Linked DNA regions of Homo sapiens. The protein of the gene in region 2 interacts with the protein of the main gene of each other region in a pairwise test. Each region holds a gene or a part of one and is shown on either strand. Other genes may lie near its edges.

The links.
Region 1: the proteins of TRIM36 (region 2) and EIF4A2 interact in binary tests that used the Homo sapiens proteins (3 or more experiments, as listed by UniProt).
Region 3: the proteins of TRIM36 (region 2) and TRAF3IP3 interact in binary tests that used the Homo sapiens proteins (3 or more experiments, as listed by UniProt).

What each region holds. Positions count from the first base shown.
Region 1 is NC_000003.12:186,786,527-186,790,282, forward strand, and holds the end of EIF4A2 (eukaryotic initiation factor 4A-II), read left to right. Parts: coding exon 1-119; intron 120-145; exon of another isoform or gene 146-326; intron 327-600; coding exon 601-738; intron 739-772; exon of another isoform or gene 773-907; intron 908-968; coding exon 969-1,058; intron 1,059-1,086; exon of another isoform or gene 1,087-1,223; intron 1,224-1,276; coding exon 1,277-1,356; intron 1,357-2,598; coding exon 2,599-2,743; 3' UTR 2,744-3,371; downstream 3,372-3,756. Other genes in the region: RFC4 (replication factor C subunit 4), read right to left, coding at 3,443-3,538, 3,616-3,729. UniProt on the Homo sapiens protein: ATP-dependent RNA helicase which is a subunit of the eIF4F complex involved in cap recognition and is required for mRNA binding to ribosome.
Region 2 is NC_000005.10:115,135,253-115,139,008, reverse strand, and holds part of TRIM36 (E3 ubiquitin-protein ligase TRIM36), read left to right. Parts: intron 1-1,392; coding exon 1,393-1,646; intron 1,647-1,884; coding exon 1,885-2,009; intron 2,010-3,756. UniProt on the Homo sapiens protein: E3 ubiquitin-protein ligase which mediates ubiquitination and subsequent proteasomal degradation of target proteins. Involved in chromosome segregation and cell cycle regulation. May play a role in the acrosome reaction and fertilization.
Region 3 is NC_000001.11:209,779,901-209,782,814, forward strand, and holds the end of TRAF3IP3 (TRAF3-interacting JNK-activating modulator), read left to right. Parts: exon of another isoform or gene 1-569; coding exon 570-706; exon of another isoform or gene 707-1,444; coding exon 1,445-1,558; exon of another isoform or gene 1,559-2,155; coding exon 2,156-2,248; 3' UTR 2,249-2,410; downstream 2,411-2,914. UniProt on the Homo sapiens protein: Adapter protein that plays essential roles in both innate and adaptive immunity. Plays a crucial role in the regulation of thymocyte development.

The DNA.
Region 1 (3,756 bases), on a different chromosome or scaffold from region 2:
CAACTGATGTGTTGGAAGTGACCAAAAAATTCATGAGAGATCCAATTCGAATTCTGGTGAAAAAGGAAGAATTGACCCTTGAAGGAATCAAACAGTTTTATATTAATGTTGAGAGAGAGGTAACTGTCTGATTGTTAGACATTATTTTACCTTCTTGTATAAGCACTGTGCTAAAATTGCAGACACTAGGACCATGTCTTGGTTTTTGCAATAATGCTAGCAGAGTACACACAAGAAGAAAAGTAACAGCACTAGATTGTAAAGACTGGGGTGGACCTCTTTCTTAATGTCCAATGTCCTTTGTCTTAAGATTTGGTGCAATATCTCATTAGACCTAACAGAATGAAGTTAATTTTTATAATTTCTACGTTTTGAGACTGGGTTATGAGACTGGCTAAGACTGGCCAATTTTGGTATTTTGGGTAGAGACAGTTTCACTTTCTTGAAACCCTGGTCTGGTTGGAACTCTGGGCTCTAAGTGCTAGGATCCCAAAGGGCTGGGATTACAGGCATTAGCACTGTGGCTGGCCCAGAATGAATTTTTAACTGAAGAGTTGGAAAAACTAAATGACTGTTAACTTTAACTTCTAAACATTACAGGAATGGAAGTTGGATACACTTTGTGACTTGTACGAGACACTGACCATTACACAGGCTGTTATTTTTCTCAATACGAGGCGCAAGGTGGACTGGCTGACTGAGAAGATGCATGCCAGAGACTTCACAGTTTCTGCTCTGGTAAGAGGTGTTCTAAAATGTCTGGATTTCCACTAAAGCAGGATTCAGACTACAATATAGCTGCTAAGTGCTGTGTTGTCGTTCCCCCTGCTTAAAATAAAGTTGTTTCTTAACTATACCTGTCTGCTATTCTCCTGTAGCAGCCAGGGACGCTTGGTCTCATACATGTTGATTAAAATTAAATACCGACCTGACTGGTGATTCTTGAATTAAGGTTTATTAATTTGCAGCATGGTGACATGGACCAGAAGGAGAGAGATGTTATCATGAGGGAATTCCGGTCAGGGTCAAGTCGTGTTCTGATCACTACTGACTTGTTGGTAAGTCTCTTAATGCTTTTTAAAAATCTACCAAAAGTTAGCTTTTTGGGGGGCAGGTTTTTAAGTAACCTTTGCCAACTTGGGCTATTTGGAAGAGTAAAAGACCACACTCCACAGTGGGCTATACCACTTAGTATAGTTCGCTACTATTTTGTGGCCTACATGACAGGTGTCAAGTTTTTTTGAATCAATTTTTAAAACATGCCATTGTGTTTCAGGCTCGCGGGATTGATGTGCAACAAGTGTCTTTGGTTATAAATTATGATCTACCTACCAATCGTGAAAACTATATTCACAGGTGAGAAGCCAGCATCTTGGCTGTATTGAAAAAAATTCATACGTTTTTCTACTGTGATTTGTATGAAAGGTAACATCAAATCAAGGAATAGATTCAGTAAAGTCAGTAGTGTTCAGTAAGATGATGTAATTAAATTTGTACTAGGGAAGGTTGATGAGAACAAAGTGGGAAAACTTGTAAACATTGCCCAGATTGTGGACATAGGGTTTTTTTCCACAATTGTTGGTCTTACCTTATGCTTGAGCTTTTAGTGATGTTCTTGTGTCCATGTGTTTTTCTTGGTGATTTTTTCTATAGTTGGGATTTTCTTGGTGTCGCCTGGTAGCAATTTGAGTGAACCCTGGTTTAGTTATAGTGGCTTTATCCCTAAATAAATTGAATTGTACTTTGTTATATGATGTAAAAAAAGACTTTTTAAAAAATACAGGAGTCGATAGCAGCAGTTGGTGACGAGATGGCACTCAGAAACGGCGTTGACGTAATTTAGGACGTGGAATCATAAGCGAAACAGCACACTGTTTGAATAAAGAGCGAGTCGGTATTTATATTTGTTTTTCTTTTGTCATGATTATTTGATTTTTAAGTTGCTCCAGCTAAGGCATTTTTTTGTATTAGTATTTCTATTAGGGAACCTTTCTTATTAGGTGGTTTGTATTGTCTGGTTTCTAACATGCAGGTAGCTGTTTGGCAGTTAAACACGTTTAGAGTAATTTGAGTTACAACGTGTGAAACTGAGCAAAAAAGCAGTGATAAGTTTGGGTTACCATACCAAATATTTGTTTTCCCACTGGAAAAAAGTAAGTTTTAGAAAATAGTTAACCTTTGCAGCATTTGTTTACAGTTTACAGTTCCAGAAGTGCGTCGAAATGGATTACATAACTGCTCTTTTATTCCTGGTGTTCACATCTGTCCCAGGCTGACACCTGCTCTTGGCTGGCCCACTTTGGTATGGGCTTTAATTTCACTACCCCAAACACGATACTGTCATCTGCTTTATAATAATGCTCAAGATGCCTGATAAAAATCTCATTTTGCAGCCAGACAAGCCTTGAATCCTTTTGGCACTAACTGCAAAGGAAGATTTTTTTCTCTAGATATGCATTAGCAGCTAGTGCTCCAGTTAGAAGCACGAACTATAACCTTGATAAGTAAACAGCAGCTGGTGGTTAACAAGTGGATCGTCATGTTCAGTAGTTTATACATTATGTGAGAAGTAACGTTCTGATTCTTTTTCTTACACAGAATTGGCAGAGGGGGTCGATTTGGGAGGAAAGGTGTGGCTATAAACTTTGTTACTGAAGAAGACAAGAGGATTCTTCGTGACATTGAGACTTTCTACAATACTACAGTGGAGGAGATGCCCATGAATGTGGCTGACCTTATTTAATTCCTGGGATGAGAGTTTTGGATGCAGTGCTCGCTGTTGCTGAATAGGCGATCACAACGTGCATTGTGCTTCTTTCTTTGGGAATATTTGAATCTTGTCTCAATGCTCATAACGGATCAGAAATACAGATTTTGATAGCAAAGCGACGTTAGTCGTGAGCTCTTGTGAGGAAAGTCATTGGCTTTATCCTCTTTAGAGTTAGACTGTTGGGGTGGGTATAAAAGATGGGGTCTGTAAAATCTTTCTTTCTTAGAAATTTATTTCCTAGTTCTGTAGAAATGGTTGTATTAGATGTTCTCTATCATTTAATAATATACTTGTGGACTAAAAGATATAAGTGCTGTATAAAATCAGCCAATTATGTTAAACTAGCATATCTGCCTTTATTGTGTTTGTCATTAGCCTGAGTAGAAAGGCCTTTAAAATTTTTTTAGAAAGCATTTGAATGCATTTTGTTTGGTATTGTATTTATTCAATAAAGTATTTAATTAGTGCTAAGTGTGAACTGGACCCTGTTGCTAAGCCCCAGCAAGCAATCCTAGGTAGGGTTTAATCCCCAGTAAAATTGCCATATTGCACATGTCTTAATGAAGTTTGAATGTTAAATAAATTGTATATTCACTTTAAAGGTGCTTTTGGTCATTTTATTTTTATTACAACTTCATTATTTACAAAACCCCCCATCCAGATATATTCACGTTAACAATTCTGAGATAACTGCTGCATCACAGTTGCACAAAGGCTGATGAGTTGCAAATGTTCATCAGCACCATCTGCTAGGCATTTGTCAACTTCCTACGAGAAAAATTTAAGAAATTAGCATCCTTCAGGTAGTTAAATGTTCCATTGACATGTGCAAAGTACCTACTTACGGCAAGTTTTTCTGTGATAATAGACTTCTGTTTATCAGATAAGTTATTTTCTACAACCACATCATGGAGTTGATTGACGAGCTGAGTTGCTGCATGACCCTCATCTATTAAATCCTATAATAAAAAAAACTTTTGGTATGA
Region 2 (3,756 bases):
TCTCTACTAAAAATACAAAAAAAAATTTAGTAGGGTGTGGTGGCGGGCGCCCGTAGTCCCAGCTACTCGGGAGGCTGAGGCAGGAGAATGGCGTGAACCTTGGAGGCGGAGCTTGCAGTGAGCCGAGATCGCGCCACTGCACTACAGCCTGGGCGACAGAGCGAGACTCTGTCTCAAAAAAAAAGAATGTTCTTGAAGACTTTTTTTCTGTTGGCTGCTGTCTGTGAGTCTGTTATAATAAGTGCTTAGGAGTGTTTGCCAGTCTTCTCAAAATCATGAGCTCTGATTTTATAGGAATTCAGAATGTTTAACAAACACTAGGGTCATTTTATGACAGTTTGTATGAATGTTTATTTACAGTATGTGACACTGTGGTATATACTTTATGTAAATAACCTTTTAAAATCTCTTCACAAAAACCTAAATGGTTTTTCTTATCCCCTATTTTCAGAAGAGAAAAAACAGAAAGAGAAGTGAAATGATTAGCATATGGTCACACAGCTAAGTCAGGATTTAATTATAATTATATTAAAGTGAAGAGGATACTTTTATTTTTATATCTTAGTAAAGAATGTCATATTTTAGAGTTTTGTGGCTAAAAACTTTTTTAGGCCAGGCGCGGTGGCTCATGCTTGTAATCCCAACACTTTGGGAGGCCGAGGCGGGTTGATCATGATGTCAGGAGATCAAGACCATCCTAGCTAACACTGCGAAACCCCATCTCTACTAAAAATATTGAAAAAAAGCTGGGCGTGGTGGCATGTGCCTGTAGTCCCAGCTACTTGGGAGGCTGAGGCAGGAGAATCACCTGAACCCAGAAGGCGGAGGTTACAGTGAGCCAAGATCGCACCACTGCACTCCAGTCTGTGCGACAGAGCGAGACTCTGTCTCAAAAAAACAAAAACAACTTTTTAAAAAGTTGGAGTAGCGTAGAAAGGGTGAAAACATTTCTGAATTTGAAATGAATTCAAAGTTCTGGAATTGTGTTTTCCTGTTTTTGTTTAAATCAGTTCATTTCTCCTTCATATTCCTTTATATACCACTGAAAGATTATTCTCTTATTTAATTGACTAAATTGTTTATTGCCAGACTTTGGAGATGAAAAGCTTAAGGAAGTACAATATTATAAAATTACAAAGTAAATCTGAATAAAAGTTGTCAGTTGTTCTTTGCTAAGTGTATTTGATGCCAAAATATTGTTCTGAAAATTTCAGAGTTAGATAAAACTTTTTTCTTTATAATATCTAGGTTGGTTTTATCAAATTTTGATAATGCTGTCATCACATAGATGAAATGTAATTATGTAGAACTTTGTGGAAAGCCATTTGGGTTTAGCAGAAGAGGCTATTCTTTGTTTTATCTTAGTGTAATGGAGATACTGTTTTTTCTTAGTGTAATGGAGAGAGGGCTAAAGAAGAAGCAATTACACATTTTGAAAAGCTCTTTGAAGTTCTGGAAGAGAGGAAATCATCTGTTTTGAAAGCAATTGACTCCTCTAAGAAACTAAGATTAGACAAATTTCAGACTCAAATGGAAGAGTACCAGGGACTTCTAGAGAACAATGGACTTGTGGGATATGCTCAAGAAGTGCTAAAGGAGACAGATCAGTCTTGCTTTGTGCAGACAGCAAAGCAGCTCCACCTCAGGTATTCTCTTTTACTTCTAACTTTAGAACCTATTGAGCAATGTTATTAAATGCTGCTGTGTATTCTCACTTTAGCTCTGATTGGTCCATAATGCTGTGTTAATGTGAGGTACATCTTGCCTCATTCTTAACTTTAATTTTGAGTGAAGTGTGGGTTTTATTTTGTTAATCATGTTGCAGATATTTAGTCTGATTTGACTTCTTAAAGAAACATTTTTATATAAAATATCTGTCTGCAGAATACAGAAAGCCACAGAATCTTTGAAGAGCTTTAGACCTGCAGCTCAGACTTCTTTTGAAGACTATGTTGTTAATACCTCTAAACAAACAGAACTTCTTGGAGAATTATCCTTTTTCTCTAGTGGTAAGTCTTAATGAAGGCAAAAACCTCATTCTTTTTGTCTGAATTTGTATTGTGTGGAAGAAAACACAAGTTCTCTTAAATTTGACATTATAAAGCAGCATCTCACTTGCCCAGGACTATCACAGCATCCTGAAATCATATCCTATTTATGTTTTTAAAACTATATTTTTATGCACAAAAACTATGTTCCATTAGTTTGTGTGTTTTTAAACATTGCATAAATAGCATTATGTTGTATGTATTTTTGTAAATTGCTTTTTAGAAAATTAACATAAATACTTGTAAATATATGAAATTTTGGTGTAAAGCAATATTTTAACTGTTTACAGTATTTCATAAGTAAATCATTTTCCTACTAAGAGACTTTTTTTTTCCATTTTTTTCCTCTTTTATGAGCAACGCTGTGTCGCACATCCTTGTCAGAGTTTTTTGGGCAAGTGTATGTGAGTTTCTTGGACAGAAGCCTAGGAATGGAATCTGCAGGCTGTTTACATTGCTGTATTAGTTTGCTTGAGCTGCAGTGACAAAAGTACCATAGACTGAGTGACTCAAAACAGATTCATTTTGTTACATTTCTGGAGCCTACAAGTCAGAGATCAAGGTGTTGGCAGGGTTGGTTTCTTCTGAACCTCTCTTCTTGGTTGATAAATGATAAATGGCTATCTTCTCCTTGTGTCTTCACATGGTCCTCTGTGTGTGTGTGAGAGAGATCTAATCTCCTCTTTTTATAAGGACACCAGTCATATTGGAGTAGGGCCCATTCTAATGACCTGATTTTAATTTAATTTCCTCTTTAAAGACCCTATTTTAAAATACAGTCACATTCTGAGGTACGTACTGGGGGTTAGGACTTCAACATGTGAATTTCCAGTGGCGAGGGGTGGGGTCTGGGGGACTGGGGAAGGATGCAATTCAGTCCATAACACTTGCTTACGTTTGTATTTTGCTACTCCCTAGCAGGGAGGTCTTCCTTGCCTTTTTTTCTTCTTCTCACCTCATTCCTCTCCCTAAGATTTCTCTTCTAGTGATGGTGAACACTACAAAGATATATTTATAGTATAATTACTTTATAGGTGCAGATTTGTAGATTTGTACATTAATACAAGGAAATTTGTCTTGTTAAAAGTTTAAAACTCTGAAGGATTACTGTGACCTCCTTTTCAAATCTATACCTGAATCTGATACTTACTTACTATGACCGTCTTATTTTTTCAAATAGATATTTGTCATCACTTAAAATGCTGATTGTATTTCATACACTATACTGTGTTTCCAAAATGTATGCTTGAATAGTATATATACAAATAGATATTTGCTTACTTGTGAGTCCTAGGTCCTCCCTCCCTGTGGATCCCAAAATGGTTGCTGGAAAGGTAAGGTTGAGGGTGGGTTATCCTGGGTTATACCACTGTATAGCAAGGAACCAATAAAACAGGTGGATGAGAATGGGATAGTAGTCACCTAGCTTCTGGCTGATGGATCTTCCCCTCATTTTTTGCTACATGCATTTTTTTTTTTTTAGTAAGCTATGTTTCAAAAAAAGAAAGAAAAAGAGTATGGGGTAGGCGACATACTATTTGTTAATCTGTAACTTTTTTTTTAAATTTTAAAATGTATTTTGAATAACTTTCCAGATCTCATTATGGCTGCATAACATTCAGTTGTATAAATGCAGCATACACAGAAATGCTTATACATTGGGGAATAAGGAGAGGAAAGAGACTTCTGCTTCTTATTCATGTCCTTC
Region 3 (2,914 bases), on a different chromosome or scaffold from region 2:
CACAGAGTATGGATAAGAACATGAAAGTCTATGGTGACACAAACTAACAACACAGCTATAACAACAATCCAAAACTTCTGACTCCTAGTCCATGCTCTTTTCACCAAGACTAAGACTGCAGGGTGGCTAAAAAACCATCTTTAACCATATGAAGATAAATTTTAGGATATGACTGCCATCTTCACAACTTTCAAATGAGGACATCAGGGAAAAGGGATTGTATTAAAGCATTTACCAAACTTATTTGACAAACTAGGAAGAATGTGACATACAACCAATGAAATTCAATTAAGAAGTATTCACTAAAACTATCTAGCACTAGATAAGACTGGGGATACAAAGAAAAGATCCCAATCTTGCCCTCAAGGAGCTCAGATTCCAGCTGTCTGTCCAAGCTTAGCAGGGGCCTACTGGAAGTTAACCTTTATGTCAGAGAATGCCATCAGTCTAGCCAAGAGCACGCCCTCCCAAGTTCCCTCCCCTCTCCCCACTCCTAGTGGTTTCACCCTCAGGGCCCTTCCTCAGAGGTGTGGGCCTCACTGTCACCAAGAATCTGGCTGCTTTTTTAGATCAGGCTTTGCCCGTGTGGAGTCCAAAGTCCTTCCCTAACGAAGTGGAGCCTGAGGGTACAGGGAAGGAGAAAGACTGGGATCTCAGAGACCAGCTGCAAAAGAAGACTTTGCAGCTCCAGGCCAAGGAAAAGGAGGTGAGAGGGTGACCTGAGATAGTGAGGGCTCATTTGCGAAATAGCAGAGAAACCTGGGAGGCAGTCAAAAAGCAGGGATTTCAAAGTTTAAGTTGTGAGTGGATAACCACAGACATTCATTTGCCTACATAAAGTGTCTGTGCTTTTGGGCTGACTTGTCAATCTTTTCCCTTCCTTATTTATACCAACTCCTATTCAAGGTTTTATTAAATGATTACCTTTTAGAAAGTCGACCAAAACTCAAACACATTTAATAAAAATATTAACTTCTCAATATGTCGTCCCACATTGAGTATCTTAAGTCTTTATATGTCTCTTAAAGAGTAAAACTCTTCCTTTGTACATACTCACAAACATACACATCCCCAGAAGTATTGATATGCAACTAGCTCCTGGGAAAGAAACTTGTACTAAGGTCACTTCTAGGTCGTTTGTTCTATAAGAACTTCATTTTTCGGTGTCTCTCATTTGCAAAGCACTTGCACGTAAAGTCATATAAAAGAACTTAAATGTATAAAATGTAATACTATAATATGCATTACTGTCAATCATTTAAATGAACACATTCCAGACAATGTAAGACAGTCAAAAGACAAACTCAAATCCCTGAGAATGGCTGGGAAGGGAAGATGGTGGTAAAAATTCCAAATGAGTGAAACTTACAAAGGGCAGTCTCCCCTGCCTGGGCTCTGTCCTAGACAGAAGTGACAGTGATGACTTTGGTGATGTTCTCCCCAGTGCAGAGAACTGCATTCAGAATTAGACAACCTCAGTGACGAGTATCTCTCCTGCCTGCGTAAGCTGCAGCACTGTCGAGAAGAGCTGAACCAGAGCCAGCAGCTGCCTCCCAGAGTAAGAGGGTCTCTCCTTCCCATAAAGCCCTGGATGATGGGACGATTCCTTCTTTAACCAAGTTTTGCACATAAAATATATCAGCCCACGCCAACAACTGGCCATCCTGTCCCACTGTGCTTGGTTTATACTATACTGACATTATGGCAACCATTGAAAAAAACACTGGCTCGTCCATCAAAGCCCAACTTTCACAGAACTCTCAATGCCAGAAGGAAAGACTTACTCTTAGCTAAAGTATGAAAGGGTGTTCTTTTAGCCGATGATAAGCATGGTGGCAAGAACAGAAGGACACAAAAGTACTGGGGAATACAAAGAAAGAATATAATTTTGCTGGGTTATTTTCCACCCTTCATTATTCATATCAGTATTTATATATCTGGTCCCTGATGGATACGGCTCCCTGGGCCAGAGAACATTGGTTAAGTGGTTTTATCCCAAGACAGGTGACAAAATGGGAGACAGAGTAAAAAGCTTTTTCTCCACCACCAACCCAGCGTTTTCCACTGGGCTAGAGTAGGAAGAAGAAAGATTTTTGCCTATATCTTTTCCAATCCACTCATGGCCACTTTCTTCTGTCTCCCTGTCCCCCTACAGAGGCAATGTGGGCGATGGCTCCCAGTGCTGATGGTGGTGATTGCTGCAGCACTGGCAGTGTTCCTGGCCAATAAAGACAACCTGATGATCTGAATAATTTGTGACAACTGCCTTGGGTGAAAATCAGAAGCAAGCAACTCAGCGAAAAACTCAGAAGGTTTGGGTACATTACAGCTTGGGTTTTCCAACTGACTTAGGATTTCTGACTTTTTATTAATTTCTTAACCTACTGTAAATAAACTTCACCTGACCAGATTGTTCCTCAGAACTCTCAGTTTATTCCTGAATGGTGTATTACATTAACAAGTATCACATATTTAAGCATACTGGTGGTCTACTCTCCTCAAATTCAGTTGGAGGCATATAAACATGCAGAAAAGCCCCCAGCCCTACTTTCCTAGCATGCAGCACCCACATAGAGCAGGTATATTTACAAGGTTACCATGCAAGAGTGTTTGGCTTGTCTTCCATCACCCTGCTTTTCCTCTATCATCTCCTTCCTTCTATCTTTTATCCAGTGAAAATGAAAACATCTCCACTAAGAGGACTTCCTAGTATAGAAATGGCAAGTATGTACTATCTACCAATTTGCTACTAGCACCACCATTACCTATTTACATGCCCTTTGCATTTGTGGCCAACTGATCTACAGCATTGTGCCTTAGTGTATTCAAGACACTTGGAATTGGCAGTTGAGATGATTATTTGCCATCCCCAACCTAGAGATGATCATTTACTGAGTACCTTCTATATGGGAGG